Linked DNA regions of Homo sapiens: region 1 is linked to region 2. Evidence: fine-mapped expression QTL. A gene starts in region 2. The other region holds a variant in brackets. All regions are shown on one strand. Distances are between the middles of the regions. Region 1 has its middle 20 kb from the start of CD70. Region 2 holds the start of CD70 (CD70 molecule).

Region 1 (8,329 bases), 20 kb after region 2:
ACCAAACATTAAAAACCTACACAAAATACAGGCCAGGTACAGTGGCTCACGCCTGTAATCCCAGAACTTTGGGAGTCCGAGGCGGGCAGATCACCTGAGGTCAGGAGTTCGAGACCAGCCTGGCCAACATGGTGAAACTCCCTCTCTACTAAAAATTCAAAAATTAGCCAGGCGTGGTCATGTGCAATTGCAGTCCCAGCTACTCAGGAGGCTGAGGCTTGAGAATTGCTTGGACCTGGGAGGCGGAGGTTGCAATGAGCTGAGATCATGCCACTGCACTCCAGCCTGGGTGACGAGAGCCAGACTTCATCTCAAAAAACAAAAATATATACAGAATACAAAGATAGTATAATAGACTTGTCACCCAGGTTGAACAGCTACTAGTCATGCCATGTTTGCTTCATCTATACTTTGACCCATTTCCTACCCCCCAATTTATTAGTTTTTTGGGTTTTCTTTTTAGATAAAATGTATACATATTGAAAGGTACAATCTGAACTGTACCATTTTGACAAATTAATACACTCATATAGACTTCCCCCCTTTAAAGAATAGAATTACTCCACTTACTAATCATTAATGTACATATAAGTTACGTCGAAGTAGTATTTACAATCCAAATTTTTATAAAATAGGTCAGAGTTTTGACTGAGAATTTTTTTTTTTTTTTGAGACCGAGTCTTGCCCTGTTGCCCAGGCTGGAGTGCAGTGGTGCAATCTTGGCTCACCGCAACCTCTGCCTCCCAGGTTCAAGCGATTCTCCTGCCTCAGCCTCCCGAGTAGCTGGGATTACAGGCTTGCGCCACCTCGCCTGTCTAATTTTTTGTGTTTTTAGTAGAGATGGGGTTTTGCCATCTTTGCCAGGTTGGTCTTGAACTCCTGACCTTCTGATCCACCCACCTCAGCCTCCCAAACTGCTGGGATTACACGCGTGAGCCACCGCGCCTGGCCGAGAATTTTTATTTTTAAAAAAGTAGAGATCTGTAGAGCACACAGTAACTACAATGTCTATTTATCTCAAGTAAATACAGTTTGATGAATAAAATTAAGGAAAATTCACCTAAGATGAAAAAAAAACAATCAAACCATCTGTGCAATATGCTATCTGTAGGAGCATTTGGTTAAGAATAACAAACTAACCCAACAATTTTATTATTTTAATAACCAAAATTGGCACAAATTTCTACTATTGTTTTCATAGAAATGCTCCCTCACAATAAAAAAATTTTCATATCATGAGAGCAAAAACAGCAAATATTTGAAAAAGTAGATGTCTTATAAAATTAAGTAGCAAAGGCCAGGCGCAGTGGCTCATGCCAGTAATCCCAGCACTTCGGGAGGCCGAGGCGGGAGGATCACCTGAGGTCAGGGGTTCGAGACTAGCCTGGCCAACATGGTGAAACCATATCTCTACTAAAAATTCCAAAATTAGCCAGACGTGGTGGCGGGCAGGAGAATCGCTTGAATCTGGGAGACAGAGGTTGCAGTGAGCCGAGATCTTGCCACTGTACTCTAGTTTGGGTGACAAGAGCAAAACTCCATCTCAAAAAAAAAAAAGAAAAATCACAGTTACCTATAATTCGATCATTCAATCAATCATCAGATAACTCAGCTCATTCAATTATCTGCAAGTGTAGATAATTCTCATAGCTTCCTATTAAAATTATGTTTTATGCCCTTACAAATTTTAACTTAGTTTTTCTTTTATTTATTTATTAGTAGGAGTCTCACTCTGTCGCCCAGGCTGGAGTGCAGTGGCACAATCTTGGCTCTCTGCAACCTCCACCTCCTGGGTTCATGCAATTCTCCTGCCTCAGCCTCCTGAGTAGCTGACATTACAGGCATGAGGCACCACACCCAGCTAATCCCACAGTGCAGGGATTAGAGGCATAAGCCACCTCCCCCTCCTACTTTTTCTTCTTACTTGGTCCGAGGGCTGTGGGACGGGGCCCCACCCCAGCCCATCACCAGAGACTTTTGGTCTTGGCCATGTGTCCTAAGACTTAATAGTTCTTGCACATTCTCTTGGTAATCAATTCAATTTGTTTCTTCCAAATCTTGCAGTAAAACTGATGTTCCAGCCAGGCGCTGTGGCTCATGCCTAGACGGTTTTCATCTTGACATGACCCTTGTGCTAGGAGTGTAAAGTAGAAAACCACAGATGGATACACATCATTGCCAGTCCCTTTTCACTAACCAAAGCGTGTCAGTGACCCTGCTTAACTTTAGTGGGTGCAGGGAAGTGGCATGCTTGCAAGAGTCAGAAAGAAAGCTGAAAATACTAGGTGGAGAACACGAATCGCTATCAAAACCCACCCATTTGATCACAGAAACTCAGCTCATGCTCCTTCCTGCTTGCAAAATACAGTCACCCCTCCAAGAGAGAACTCCATAGTCCCACCTGTAATGGCATCAAGCCTCTTTTTCTTTCCATGTGGTCTGTGATCATTCAGTAGCCTAGCCAAGCTTTTTTTTTTTTTTAAAATTACTGAACATATATTTCTGAGTTCCTGCTGTTTCCAAGGTATTAATACAATAGTGCAGAAATCAAAGTTCCTACCCTCTTGGAGATTGCATTTGATGAGTTCCCATTTGTGTCAGGCCAACTTTCTTGCATTCTGTTTTTATTTTAAAAATAAATATGGTCTCAAAAAACAAACAAAAACAACAGCAACAAAATGGTCTCAGTTAATATTCCAACAGCCCTGGGAGATAAGTAGTATTATCTTGAGATGCCTTTTGTGAATTTTCAGCAACAACTAGAATTTTAAAAACAATCCATAGATATTTCCATAACGTACGTATATGAAAGGACACAGTGAACAATGATAAGAAAACTTAGGTTTTAAAAAGGTTAAGTACCTTATTAAAGGTAAAAGCTGGCCAGGCGTGGTAGCTCACGCCTGTAATCCCAAAACTTTGGGAGGCTGAGGCAGGCTGATCACTTGAGGTCAGGAGTTCGAGACAAGCCTGGCCAACATGGTGAAACCCTATCTCTACTAAAAATACAAAAATTAGCCAGGCATGGGGGCGGGTGCCTGTAATCCCAGCTACTTGGGAGGCCAAGACATGAGAATCACTTGAAACCAGGAGGCGGAGGTTGCAGTGAGCTGAGATCGTGCCACTGCACTCCAGCCTAGGTGACAGAGTGAGACTCTGTCTCAAAAAGAAAAATAAATAAATAAATAAAAATAAATAAATAAAGCAAAGCCAAAATTCAAAACTCAAACTTTATTTTGACTCCAGAGTTCCTTTTATACAATACCTTTTCCTCTGAAGTCATGCCCCAGCTGATATCACAGTCAAAATACATTTTAAAGGATGAGTGGGACAGAGGTGTAATGGGGAAAAGGTACTAGTCAAAACTTTTTAAAAAATAGGCTTTTATGGGTGTGGTGGCTCATGCCTGTAATCCCAGCAACTTGGGAGGCTGAGGCAGGAGAATTGCTTGAACCTGGGAGGTGGAGGTTGCGGTAAGCCAAGATCGCTCCATTGCACTCCAGCCTAGGCAACAAGAGTGAAGCTCCGTCTCAAAAAAAAAAAAAAAAAAAAAAAGTCTTTTTAGAGCAGTTTTAGTTTCGCAGCAAAATTGAGCAGAAAATACAAAAAGTTCCCACACACCCCTAGAGCCCCCTGCTCCACAAACAATCCCATTGTTAACATCCCACCGCACCCGGCCGGCTCTGTGTATTTGTCTTCACTTTTTTCCCCTGCTTCTTGGATTTGCTAACTTTATGGTTGCCTTATCTTCAAGTTTGTTGATCTTTTTTCTACCTACTCAAATCTGTTCTTGAATTCGTCTAATGAATTATCACCTCCATTATTGTAACTTTCAGCTCCAGAATTCCTGTTTGTGAATTTTTAATAATTTATTTCTTTCTATTGACATTCTCACTTCTTTCATATATCATTCTCATGATCTGCTTTAGTTCTTTGTCCATATTTTCCTTCATCTCACTGAACACATTGGAGACAGTTGATTTAATGTCTTTGACTAATAGTTTCAATGTGTGGGCTTCCCTAGTAACAGTATATGTTAAATCATGGTTTATTGTAAATGAGTTATACTTTCCTATGTCTTTATGCTTTGTAATTACAACTGGACATCCTGAGTATTATGATTCATAAGTCTGGAACTCCGATGCTCCAAGTCTTCATGGATTGCTGATTTCTGCTTACTGAAGGCTGAAACTATTCATTTCTGACTTTTCCCGACTGTTTTTTGGCAACTGTGTATCCTTTGGGTGTGATCACTGAAGTGTCTTTTCCATTTTGTGGTCAGTTAGTAACATGACAAAGATTTTACAAGGCATCGAACCTCTAAGTCTGAGGGATAC[G/C]AAGGGACTCAAGAGAGCCAAAACAAGCATCTTATTGGCTTCTCAGGAATTGCCAGACCTAGTAGAGTGCAAATTCCCCAAATTTTGGAGGCCAAGGTCTCAACTGCCTGCTCTGGCACTGGTCACCTGTTTGAGGAAAATGGACTGTCTCCAAATTGCCCCACTCGGACGGAGGAATGGGGAGTGGGGGCTGGTTTGTGAAGGCTGTTCTCTTTCTAAAGTCTCAGTCTCTCTTTTCATCAAGCACTCCTCTCATTATTATAAGTGCTGCAACAGGATGACTAGTTCTGAAATCATTGATTCTGTGTCTCCTGCCCCTCAGTTCACTGTTTATTTCACTGGAGGGAGGGGCTCCCAGAGCTTTCTACTCCGTCTTTTTGCTTGATCTCACTGTTTGCTGACTTTCTGAGATATGCCCAAACTCATATGGCTATTGGAAATTTCCACATTAAAAGTACTTCACCACATTGGGCAACATGGTGAAATCCTGTCTCTACAAAAAAGAAAAATACAAAAATTCCTTGGGTGAGGTGGCACACTCCCGTAGTCCCAGCTACTTGAGAGGCTGAGGTGGGAGAATCGCTTGAGACCGGGAGGCAGAGGTTGCAGTGAGCCGAGATCGCACTACTGCACTCCAGCCTGGGTGACAGAGTGAGGCTCTGTCTCAAAAAAAAAAAAAAAAAAAAAGGTACTTGACATGATAGTTTCCAATAAAAACATTTTAACCTAATTCCTTCATTTCACTCTTTAGCAATCAATATGTGAAAATTATATTGAACTGGTAAAAATGCAGGTTACAAAGATAAGATAAATATGAAATGCTATGATACACTTCTGACCACTGGAAGACATAAGAGAGAGTTGCAATGATTATATTTAATATTTTGGTTAGTAAACAGAGAGAACGCATCTACCCAGGGATTCAGTAGGGGTATGTGAAGATTTAATAAGGTAAGTAATCCTTAGTTTTTGAGAAACCAGAGATAGAAAATATGTTGGTGATTTTTTTTTTTTTTTGAGATGGAGTCTGGCTCTTTTCGCCCAAGCTGGACTGCAGTGGTGTGCTCTCAGCTCACTGTAACCTCTGCCTCCCGGGTTCATGCCATTCTCCTGCCTCAGCCTCCTGAGTAGCTGGGATTATGGGTGTGTACCACCACACCTGGCTAATTTTTTTTCTTTTTTGAGACGGAGTCTTGCTCTCTTGCCCAGGCTGGAGTGCAGTGGCGTGATCTCGGCTCACTGCAAGCTCCGTCTCCCAGGTTCATGCCATTCTCCTGCCTCAGCTTCCCGAGTAGCTGGGACTACAGGTGTCTGCCACCACGCCCGGCTAATTTTTTGTATTTTTAGTAGAGACGGGGTTTCACCGTGTTAGCCAGGATGGTCTCGATCTCCTGACCTCGTGATCCGCCCGCCTTGGCCTCCCAAAGTGCTGGGATTACAGGTGTGAGCCACCGCGCCCGGTCAATTTTTTTTTTTTAACTTTAAGTTCCGGGATACATGTGCAGAACATGCAGGTTTGTTACATAAGTATATGTGTGCCATGGCGGTTTGCTGCACCTGCTGACCCGTCCTCTAAGTTGCCTCCTCTCACTTCTCACCCCCCAACAGGCCCGATGTGTGACGTTCCCCTCCCTGTGTCCATGTGTTCTCATTGTTCAGCTCCCACTTATGAGTGAGAACATGCGGTGTTTGGTTTTCTGTTCCTGTGTTAGTTTGCTGAGGGTGATGGTTTCCAGCTTCATCCATGTCCCTGCAAAGGACACGATCTCTTTCCTTTTTATGACTGCGTAGTATTCCATGGTGTATAGGTACCACATTTTCTTTATCCAGTCTATCATCGATGGACATTTGGGTTGGTGCCATGACTTTGCTATTGTAAATAGTGCTGCAATAAACATATGGTGCGTGTGTCTTTATAGTAGAATAATTTATGTTCTCTTTTTTTTTTTTTTTTTGAGATGAAGTCTCAGTTTGTCACCCAGGCTGGAGTGCAGTGGCATAATCTTGGCCCACTGCAACCTCCAACTCCCGGGTTCAAGCAATTCTCCTGCCTCATCCTTCCGGGTAGCTGGGATTGCAGGTGCCCACCACCATGCCTGGCTAATTTTTGTATTTTTAGTAGAGATGATATTTCGCCACGTTGGACCAGGCTGGTCTCGAACTCCTGGCCTCAGGTGATCTGCTCACCTTGGCCTCTCAAAATGCTGGGATTACAGGCGTGAGCCGCCACACCCGGCCAGGATTGTTATTACTACTTTTAACCCATTTCCCATTTGCCCCGAGAATACTCTTGTCTCTAATCCCAATGTAACATCATATACATTTCTGCTACATTAGGATTAGAGACAAATTCTGTTCAGAAATAACTCCAAGAACAGTTTTTATATTTTATTTGCACATTGAAACTCAACCAGATTTGCTTCAGCCTCAACAAGTGTGTTTATGTAAAGTTAAATGAACTCTGGCAGTGAGCTGCACGTTTTTTAAAATTAGGAAATGAGTTAGCTAATATTGAACTTGAGGTTTTAGTCAATGCAATGAGACAAAAAGATTGAATAGGAAGAAATGAGTCATTATTTAGAGATTACTTCATTATGTATGTAGAAAATTCTAGGCCAGTCATTGTGGCTCACGCCTGTAACCCCAGCACTTTAGGAGGCCGAGGTGGGTGGATCATGAGGCCAGGAGATCGAGACTATCCTGGCTAACACGGTGAAACCCTGTCTCTACTAAAAATACAAAGAACTAGCCGCCTGTAGTCTCAGCTACTTGGGAGGCTGAGGCAGGAGAATGGCGTGAACCCAGGAGGTGGAGCTTACAGTGAGCCGAGATCACACCACTGCACTCCAGCCTGGGTGACAGAGTGAGACTCTGTCTCAAAAAAAAAAAAAAAAGAAAATTCTAAATAATCTACACATAGTTTTATTTTTACTTTTGAGATGGACTCACTGTGTCGCCCAGGCTGGAGTGCAGTGGTGCAATCTCGGCTCACTGCAACCTCTGCCTCCCAGGTTCAAGCAATTCTCCTCCCTCAACCTCCCAAGTAGCTGGGACAACAGGTGCTCACCACCACACCCAGCTAATTTTTTCTGTAGTTTTAGTAGAGATGTGGTTTTATCGTGTAGGCCAGGGTGGTCTCAAACTTCTGGTCTCAGGTGATCCACCCATCTCAGCCTTCCAAAGTACTTGGATTACAGGTGTGGGCCACCACGCCCAACCTACACATAGTTTTTTTTTTTTTTTTTTTTTTTTGAGACAGAGTTTTGCTCTGTTGCCCAGGCTGGAGTACAGTGGTATATCTTGGCTCACCACGACCTTCTCTTCCCGGGTTCAAGCAATTCTGTTGCCTCAGCCTCCTGAGTAGCTGGGATTACAGGCATGCACTACCACACCCGGCTAATTTTTGTATTCTTAGTAGAGATGAGGTTTCACCATGTTGCCCAGGCTGGTCTCAAACTCCTGACCTCAGGGGATCCGCCCACCTCAGCCTCCCAAAGTGCTGGGATTACAGGCATAAGCCACTGCGCCCGGCCTACACATAGTTTTAATATATTGATTTAGCAACAACACCGGAGGCAAAGCCAAAGTACAAAAATAAATCATATTTTTATATACCACTGTCAACTAGAAAAGACATGTAAAACTATGTCATTTACAAACTCAACAAAAATATATCAAATACCTGGGACTACATCTAATGGAAGCACTATATAAATTCTACACCAAAAACCATAAAATGTTACTGAGAAAATTAAAGAAAGCTTAAATAAATAGAAGGATATACCATGGCCAAGAGGTTGGAACATTTAATACCATGAAGACACCAATTCTACACCAATATCTATTGATCTATAGATTCAATGCAATCCCAGTCAATACCTCAGCAGGAAGTATACGTGTGTGTGTGTGTATGTGTGTGCGCGTGAGAGAGAGAGAGGAGAGAGAGAGAGAGAGACTGATTCTAATAAAAACACAGGGAAATGCAAAGAACT
Region 2 (8,282 bases):
CCTGAGGTCAGCAGTTCAAGACCAGCCTGGACAACAGGGCGAGACCCCATCTCTACAAAAAATAAAAAGTCAGCCAGGTGTGGTGGTGCACGCCTCTGGTCCTGGCTACTCTTGGGAGGCTGAGGCTGGAGGATCGCTTGAGCCTGGGAGGCTGAGACTGCAGTGAGCTATGATCACACCACTGCACTCCAGCCTTGGTCACAGAAACCCTGTCTCAAAAAAAAGGGAGGGGGATAGAAGGTTAGAGATCTAAAGGGAAGGAGAGAGGGGTAAGGGGAAAGGGGTAGAGACAGGGAGAGAGAGACACCAGGAGAGAGAGAGACAAAAAAAAAAAAAAAAAAAACAGAAACAGACAAGGGTAAAGATAGAGGGGGAGGGAGAGATATATAGAGAGAGAATGCAGAGAGAGAGCAAGAGAGAGAGTGTATGTGTGAGAGAGGACGAGAGTGCACGAGAGAGTGCGACAGAGAGCATGAGAGAGAGAGCATGAGAGAGCGAGAGAGTGTGTGAGAGGACGAGAGAGCTTGAGGGAGAGTGCACGAGAGAGTGCGAGAGAGCACGAGAGAGCAGGAGAGAGTGCAAGAGACAGCATGAGAGAGAGAGAGATCATGAGGGAGAGAGAGCATGAGACAGCGAGAGAGTGTGAGAGAGAGGACGAGAGAGCTTGAGGGAGAGTGCACGAGAGAGTGAGAGAGAGCACGAGAGAGCAGGAGAGAGTACGAGAGACAGCATGAGAGAGAGAGCAAGAGAGAGAGTGTGTGTGTGAGAGAGGACGAGAGAGCTTGAGAGAGAGTGCACGAGACAGAGTGTGAGAGTGAGCTCGAGAGAGTGCATGGGAGAGTGTGTGTGTGAGAGAGGATGAGAGCTACAGAGCTCGAGAGTGCACGGGAGTGAGCGAGAGAGTGCCTGAGAGAGTGAGACAGACAGCACGAGAGAGACAGCGTGCGCACGAGACAGCGCGCAAGAGAGTGCACGAGAGAATTCCCCAAGGGACGCCTGCTCGGGTCACACCCTGAACGCCAATAAAAGCTTTGGCTCCCAGGACCCTTTTTTTTTCTTGCTTTCCACCCGCTGGTTGAGTGTGTGTCTCAGAGAGCTCCCCTACCTTCCCGTTGGCCCTCTTCTCTCTAGGATCTTTATTTTCTTTAGAGACAGGGTCTGGTCCTGTCACCCAGGCTGGAGTGCAGTGGTGCAATCATAGCTCACTGCAGCCTCAGCCTCTGGGGCTCAAGCTATCTCCCACCTCAGCCTCCCGAGTCACTGGGAGGTGGCATGCGCCACCATGACCAGCTAATTTTCAAAATTTTGTTCTAGAGATGGTGGTCTTGCTATGTTTCCCAAGAAACATAGTCTAGAACTCCTGGGCTCAAGCGATCCTCCCACCTCAGCCTCCCAAAGCGCTGGGATCACAGCCGGGAGCCAAGGTCCTCGGCTATATTTCACGTGTTTCATCTCAGCGTCTCCTGTCTCCGCAACTTATCTGACTGACACACCTGAGCCTCACTCTCCTCCTCACTCAAGGCTCTCCTGGAGACTGGCTATCTTGTTAGGAAGGAACTGAACGGGGTCAAACAGGAGCCCCAAGGGTGTTTACCAGGCTTTGCAAATTTCCTGTAAGAGTGACACCTGGTCCCCTGTCACACACTTAGGCATGATATCATCCACCAGAAGAAAGAGCTGTCCTGTGAAAGACACTGTCAACACCTGTGGCCACCACCCCTGGTGCCCCATCGATGTGGGGCTGGACAGCCACTCTCCAGAAAGGGGCCTCAAGACCAAATTACAGGAAAAATATGGCAAAGGCCGGGGAGGGGGGGAAGATATATCAGGGGTCAGAGACCCAAGGAGAAGAGAGAGCAACAAAGGTCCCTTCCATTACAAAATGGAAGGAACAAAACACGCAAGCGTGCAGTAATTTTAGTCTCTGGGGATGAACCGTGGAAAAACAGAAGAGGAAGAAGCGTTCGAGAGAGGCTGGGAGGAGGTAGAGACTTCCACCTAGAGCAGAACTGTTCATTTCTTCTCCCTCAAGGCTTCTTGCCAATGCCACCCACTCAGATACCACCCCCCCACCCGACCGCCGCGACTCCACTTTAAATGAAAATCCCCAACCCTGGCATGCCCGGATTCCCCACCCACCTCCTTGCCTGATTTTTTCTCTAAAACCTGCTCTTGGCCTGTTTTACTCTACGTGGCATTGCTCTGTTTTTCACATGTTCGTTTTTATTTTTTTGGTCATCTCCTCCTCGGTAGGAGTGATAGTAGAAGGGAAGCTCACCAGGCAGGGATTTCTGTCTGTTTTGTGCGCGACTGCAGTACCGGAACAGTGCCTGCCCACTGCAGATGTATAATTAGTGCTTGTAGCATGAATGGAGGAAGGGTAGCCTTTCCTGTGAGCGTTTTCGTTTACTAACAAAACCCCTTTGATTCTTCCAAGGGAGGAGATCGAATGTGAAGGACTGAGAGGGAAAGGGAGAGAAAGGTAGTGGATGCCCAGAAACACAAACCTGCTCGCTCTCTCTCTCCTCTCTCTCTCTCTCGTTCTCTCCCTTTTCCTTTTTCTCTTGGGAATGATCTCTTTCTCCCCCGCCCTGTTTTTCTTCTTCCCCCTCTCTGTCTCTGTCTCTTCCTCTCTGTTATTCTCCTTCTCTTTTCCTCTCTCTGGCTTTCTTTCTTTTCTTTCTCTTATTTCTTTTTTTCTCTTTCTTCTTTCTTTTTCCTTTCTCTCTCTCTCACCTCCCTCCCTCTCTCCTTCCTTCCTTCTTCTCTTTCTTTTCCTTCCTTCCTTTCTTTCTTTTTCTTTTCCTTTCTTCTTTTTATTTATTTATTTGACAGAATCTCCCTCTGTCACCCAGGCTGGAGAGCAGTGCCATTATCTTGGCTCACTGCAACTTCTGCCTCCCAGGTTCAGGCGATTCTCCTGCCTCGGCCTCCTGAGTAGCTGGGATTACAGGTGCCTGCCACCACACCCGGCTAATTTTTGTAATTTTAGTAGAGACGGGGTTTCACCATGTTGGCCAGGCTGGTCTCAAACTCCTGGGCTCAAGTGATCCACCCGCCGCGCCCTCCGAAAGCGCTGGGATTACAGGCTCCAGCAACCACGCCAGGTCGCCTCTCTCGTTTTTATTCTCTCTTCCTCTATCTGTCTTTTTTCTCTTTCTCCGTCTCTCTCCCTCTCTCTCGTTCTGTCTCCCCCGCCTGTCTCCCTCCCTCCCTCTTCCACTCTCCCTGCGTCTCTCCCTGTTTCTTTCTTTCCCCTTCTTCTCCTGTCCCGTCTGTCCCCTCTGTCCCTCTCTCTGTTCTTTTTTCTGTCTCTCCCTCCCTTTCTCTGGGCCTCTCCCTCCCTCTCTGTCTTCTCTCTGTCTCCCCCTCTCCGTTTCCCTCCCTATCTCTCCCTCCCTCTCTCCCTCCGTCTCTGTCTGTGTCTCTTTCTCTCTGTCTCTCCCCACTTGTCTTTCTACCTCTCCTTCCTTCTCTCTCTGTGCCTCTTCTTCTCCCCGTCCCTCCACGTCCCCCGTGTTACCTGTGTGATTCAGCTGCAGCTCAGCTACGTCCCACTGGAAGAAAAGACCAGAAAACAGGGCACGGACGTAAGCAGAGAGGTTCTATGTGTCCCCTGTGCCAGGAGCTCTCTTTTCTCTGTCCATCCTCCTTTCCACCTCTCATCCCACGGCGCGCACTGGTGATTTTATTTCATTTTATTTTTTTTTACTCTTAAGACTTCTTAAAGAGGAAGCAGGTCTGAACCAGCGGGGAACGTGAAGTCGAGACCTTCAAAAGAACTTCTTCGTTTCCCGAATCGTTTTCCTGGATGTCACTGGGCGCGAGAGCACCGCGCGCAGCGGACTCTCTACGCTGCAAAGGCGCCCGGCGCGGTCCCCAAAGGGACCCCTCCCCCACCCGGAGCGAGTGGCTGGGGCCATCCCGTCCTAGGAGGCCCCAGGAAGCCCCCACGCCCAGCCTTGTGAAGCCCCCAGCAGCCTCTGAGTCAGCCTGCCGGGGGAACACCAGAGCCGAGTCATCTTCCATTTCCATGTGTGCCTACCTTTCCCATCCCGGGATCTCCCTGTACCTCCTGGCAGGGCTGCCTGTCTCGTAGCCCCTACACCGGGCAGCCTGGTCCCCGCCTCGCCTCCCTGTTCTGGTCTCTGTCTCTGCCCTACCAGATCTTCCTCTCTGGCCTCTTTGTACCCATCTCATTCTGTCTTTTCGGTCACGCGCCTCTCTATGTTTTCTTCCCAACTTTTCCATCTCAACTCACCCCAAGTGACTCGAGCGGCAGCTGCTGCTGAGCCTGTGCGAAGCGCTGGATGCACACCACGAGGCAGATCACCAAGCCCGCGACCAATGGGACCAAAGCAGCCCGCAGGACGCACCCATAGGGCCTGCGCCGCACCGAGCAGCCCGAACCCTCCTCCGGCATCGCCGCGGCGATCACCTCCGCTAGCGCAGGAGGGGCGATGGGGGCGCGGAGCGCTGCCGAGAAGGAAGGAAGGAAACTGCAGCCCCCTCCCGGGGCTCCTGGGCGTCTACTTGCTTCAACCTGTCAGGGGACCAGCCTGCCCCTCTCTGGGGATGTCCGGCCGGTCGAGGGGAGGGACTTGAGCAATTGGCGAGGGGAAATTCCCTCCAACCGCTGCCAGTCTGAAGATCCTAAAGTGGGTGGAGGCAGTTGCCAGGATGCAGGCAGTGGCCCCGGGTGAGCCTCAGAGTTGCCTGCCCCCAACCCCTCCCCGCCCGACCTTCAGGCAGGAGACATTCAATCTTCCTATTCCCCTCTCCACCTCATTCTTCTGGGGCCCATTCATTTATTCAACAAACCTCCACTGCACATTTATTAGGGATTAGATTGTGCTGTGCACTGGGGATACAGCAGACATCCAAGAATTGGGGGTGCTCCCCAAATATTCGTGTACCCCTCTCCTGCATTTTTTTGATTTGTTTTGTTTTTGAGACGGAGGTCTCCCTCTGTCACCCAGGCTGGAGTGCAGTGGCGCCATCTCAGCTCGCCGCAACCTCGATCTCCTGGGTTCAAGCGATTCTCCTGTCTGAGCCTCGCGAGTAGCTGGGAGTAACATGCGCGCGCCACCATGCCTGGCTAATTTTTTGTATTTTTAGTAGAGATGGGGTTTCACCATGTTGGCCAGGCTGGACTTGAACTCCTGACCTTGGGTGATCCACCCGCCTTGGCCTTCCAAAGTGCTGGGATTAAAGGCATGAGACACTGCACCCGGTCAGTTATCTCCTGCATTCTTGGAGACCACCTGCTTTTTTGTTTAAAGTTAAATTAAGTTAATATTTTTATTTTTTATTTTTATTTTATTTTATTATTTATTTTTTTTTTTTTTGAGACAGAGTCTCGCTCTGTCGCCCAGGCTGGAGTGCAGTGGCGCCATCTCGGCTCACTGCAAGCTCCGCCTCCCGGGTTCACGCCATTCTCCTGCCTCAGCCTCTCAAGTAGCTGGGACTACAGGCGCCCGCCACCACGCCCGGCTAACTTTTTGTATTTTTAGTAGAGATGGGTTTTCACCATGTTAGCGAGGATGGTCTCCATCTCCTGACCTCGTGATCTGCCCGCCTTGGCCTCCCAAAGTGCTGGGATTACAGGCGTGAGCCGCCGCGCCCGGCCTAAATTAATATTTTTAGAGACAGAGTGTTGCTCTGTTGCCCAGGCTGGATGCAGTGGCGCCACACAGCTCACAGCAGCCTCAAACTCCTGGGCTTCAGTGACCCTCCCATCTCAGCCTTTTGCATAGTTGGGTCTACCAGCACACGCTACCATGCCCGGCTAATTTTTTTTTTGGGGGGGGTAGAGGATAGGGTGTTACTATGTTACCAGGCTGGTCTCAAACATCTGGGCTCAAGCGATCCTGCTGCGTAGGTCCCCCAAAGTGCCGGGATGACAGGTGTGAGCCACCGCATCCAGCCTCCTGCTGCTGTTCTCGATGGCTGTAGTGGGTTAACGGTGTCCTCCCAGAATTCATGGCCTCCTGGAACTGCAGAATATGACCTCATTTTGAAATTACGGGGTTTTTTTTGCAGATATAATTAGGCTTAAATGAGGTCATACTGGATTAGAGTGGGCCCTCAGGTGGAGAGAAAAGAGGCTCATAGAGAAGGAGCCGTGTGAAAACAGAAACAGAAACTGAATGAGGCAGATGAAAGTCAAGAAACACCAAGAAGGAGCCAGGCGCAGTGGCTCACGCCTGTAATCCCAGCACTTTGGGAGGCTGAGGCAGGCGGATCACTTGATATCAGGAGTTTGAGACCCTCCTGGCTAACACGGTGAAACCCCCGTCTCTACTAAAAATACAAAAAATTAGCCGGGCATGGTGGCGGGCGCCTGTAGTCCCAGCTACTCAGGAGGCTGAGGCAGGAGAATGGCGTGAACCCGGGAGGTGGAGCTTGCAGTGAGCCGAGATCACGCCACTGAACTCCAGCCTGGGTGACAGAGTGAGACTCCGTCTCAAAAAAAAAAAAAAAAGAGTTGGAGACCAGCCTGGCCAACATGGTGGAACCCCATCTCTACTAAAAATTCAAAAAATAGCTGGGTGTGGTGGTGGGCACCTTTAATCCCAGCTACTCAGGAAGCTGAGGCAGGAGAATCGCTCAAACCCGGGAGGCAGAGGTTGCAGTGAGCCGAGATCACACCATTGCACTCCAGCCTGGGTGACAGAGCGAGACTCTGTCTTAAAAATATATATATTTTTTAAAAAGAGGATCCAGCCTCTTTTTCCGGCTGGAACCATGGAGGGTGTAGAAGAGAAGAAGAAGGAAGTTCCCGCTGTGCCAGAAACCCCTAAGAAAAAGCGAAGGAATTTCACAGAGCTGAAGACCAAGCGCCTGAGAAAGAAGTTTGCCCAAAAGATGCTTCGAAAGGCAAGGAGGAAGCTTATCTATGAAAAATTGAAGCACTATCACAAGGAATATAGGCAGAGGTACAGAACTGAAATTCGAATGGAAAAGATGTCAAGAAAAGCTGGCAACTTCTATGAACCTGCAGAATCCAGACTGGCGTTTGTCATCAGGATCAGAGGTATCGATGGTGTGAGCCCAAAGGTCCGAAATGTGTTGCAGCTTCTTTGCCTTTGTCAAATCTTCAATGGAACCTTTGTGAAGGCCAATTAACATGCTGAGGATTGTAGAGCCATACATTGCATGCGGGTACCTAAATCTGAAGTCAGTAAATAAACTAATCTACAAGCGTGGTTATGGCAAAATCAATAAGAAACGAATTGCTTTGACAGATAACGCTTTGCACGATCTCTTGGAAAATATGGCATCATCTGTATGGAGGATGTGATTCATGAGGTCCATACTGTTGGAAAACGCTTCAAAGAAGCACATAACTTCCTGTGGTCCTTCAAAGTATCTTCTCCATGAGGCAGAATGAAGAAACAGACCACCCATTTCGTGGAAGGTGGAGATGCTGGCAACAGGGAGGACCAGATCAACAGGCTTGTTAGAAGAATGAACTATGGTGTGTACTATAATTATTTTTCTAAGCTGTTCAATAAACATTACCTGCTCTCAAATGGAAAGAAAAATATGTCTGTATATACATACAGTTAGGGTCCCAAGGGCCTCTGGCTATGAATCATCAAGAAGTCAGTGTCATCAGCAGCAAACTCACAGCCAACAGCGCTAGAACTCGTGCCTGGGGATAGCTTCTCTAACACGTGGATTTCCTCCTCTGTGAGGCTCATCACGGCCTCCTTGCTCTTGGGGGACATTAGACAGGGCTTCAGCACTATTTGGGGGCTGTTTGAAACAGCAAAATTACCAACAAAAAGCAAAAAATTGAAAGGAGATAAAAATGGGAGATTTCAGAGCCTGAGCCTATAGCATTTGCTGGGTGGGTGAAGAGGGTGGTCAAAGAGGTCCAGAATTTTGAGGTATCCAGAAATCAAAATATCCTCCCTGAGATCCCCAAGTACTAAAGGGATTTCCTTCACGGAAGCCCTAGGACTCCAGGTCTGGGGGAAGCGGGTAGACAGCACCTTCAAGACAATCTCCTACCTTAATTTATTTAATATTTACTTAGCTGATCTTTTTATCAGCTTAAGATATAAATAGTTTAGATTCATATCATTAAGAAATAACTAATACCTTCTAAAAGATGGGGGAAAGAGAGATGGGGTGGGGTGGCTCATACATGTAATCTCAGCACTTTGGGAGGCCGAGGTGTCTTAGGAAAATCCCAAAATGAGACAGGAGCAGCCAACTCATAAAAATAAATACAACTGCTTGGCCGGGCGCAGTGGCTCACACCTGTAATCTCA

What was found. PIP is the estimated chance that this variant, and not a neighbour inherited with it, causes the effect.
Region 1: its variant is fine-mapped to the expression of CD70 in esophagus muscle (GTEx, PIP above 0.99). The same link has a PIP of 0.9 or more in gastroesophageal junction, subcutaneous fat and visceral fat.

What each region holds. Positions count from the first base shown.
Region 1 is chr19:6,606,988-6,615,316 of GRCh38, forward strand. No RefSeq gene overlaps it. Among named protein-coding and RNA genes, the nearest start is that of CD70, 20 kb to the left of the region's middle. RefSeq lists an enhancer at 2,021-2,130. The variant G/C (reference allele first, on the strand shown) is at 4,338.
Region 2 is chr19:6,586,580-6,594,861 of GRCh38, forward strand. CD70 (CD70 molecule) reads right to left here and starts at 4,571. Exons shown (of 3, transcript NM_001252.5): 1 at 4,262-4,571; 2 at 3,524-3,557. The coding sequence starts at 4,423. It also overlaps the pseudogene RPL7P50. RefSeq lists enhancers at 1-641, 1,743-1,922, 2,213-2,292, 3,471-3,840, 4,341-4,740 and 2 more.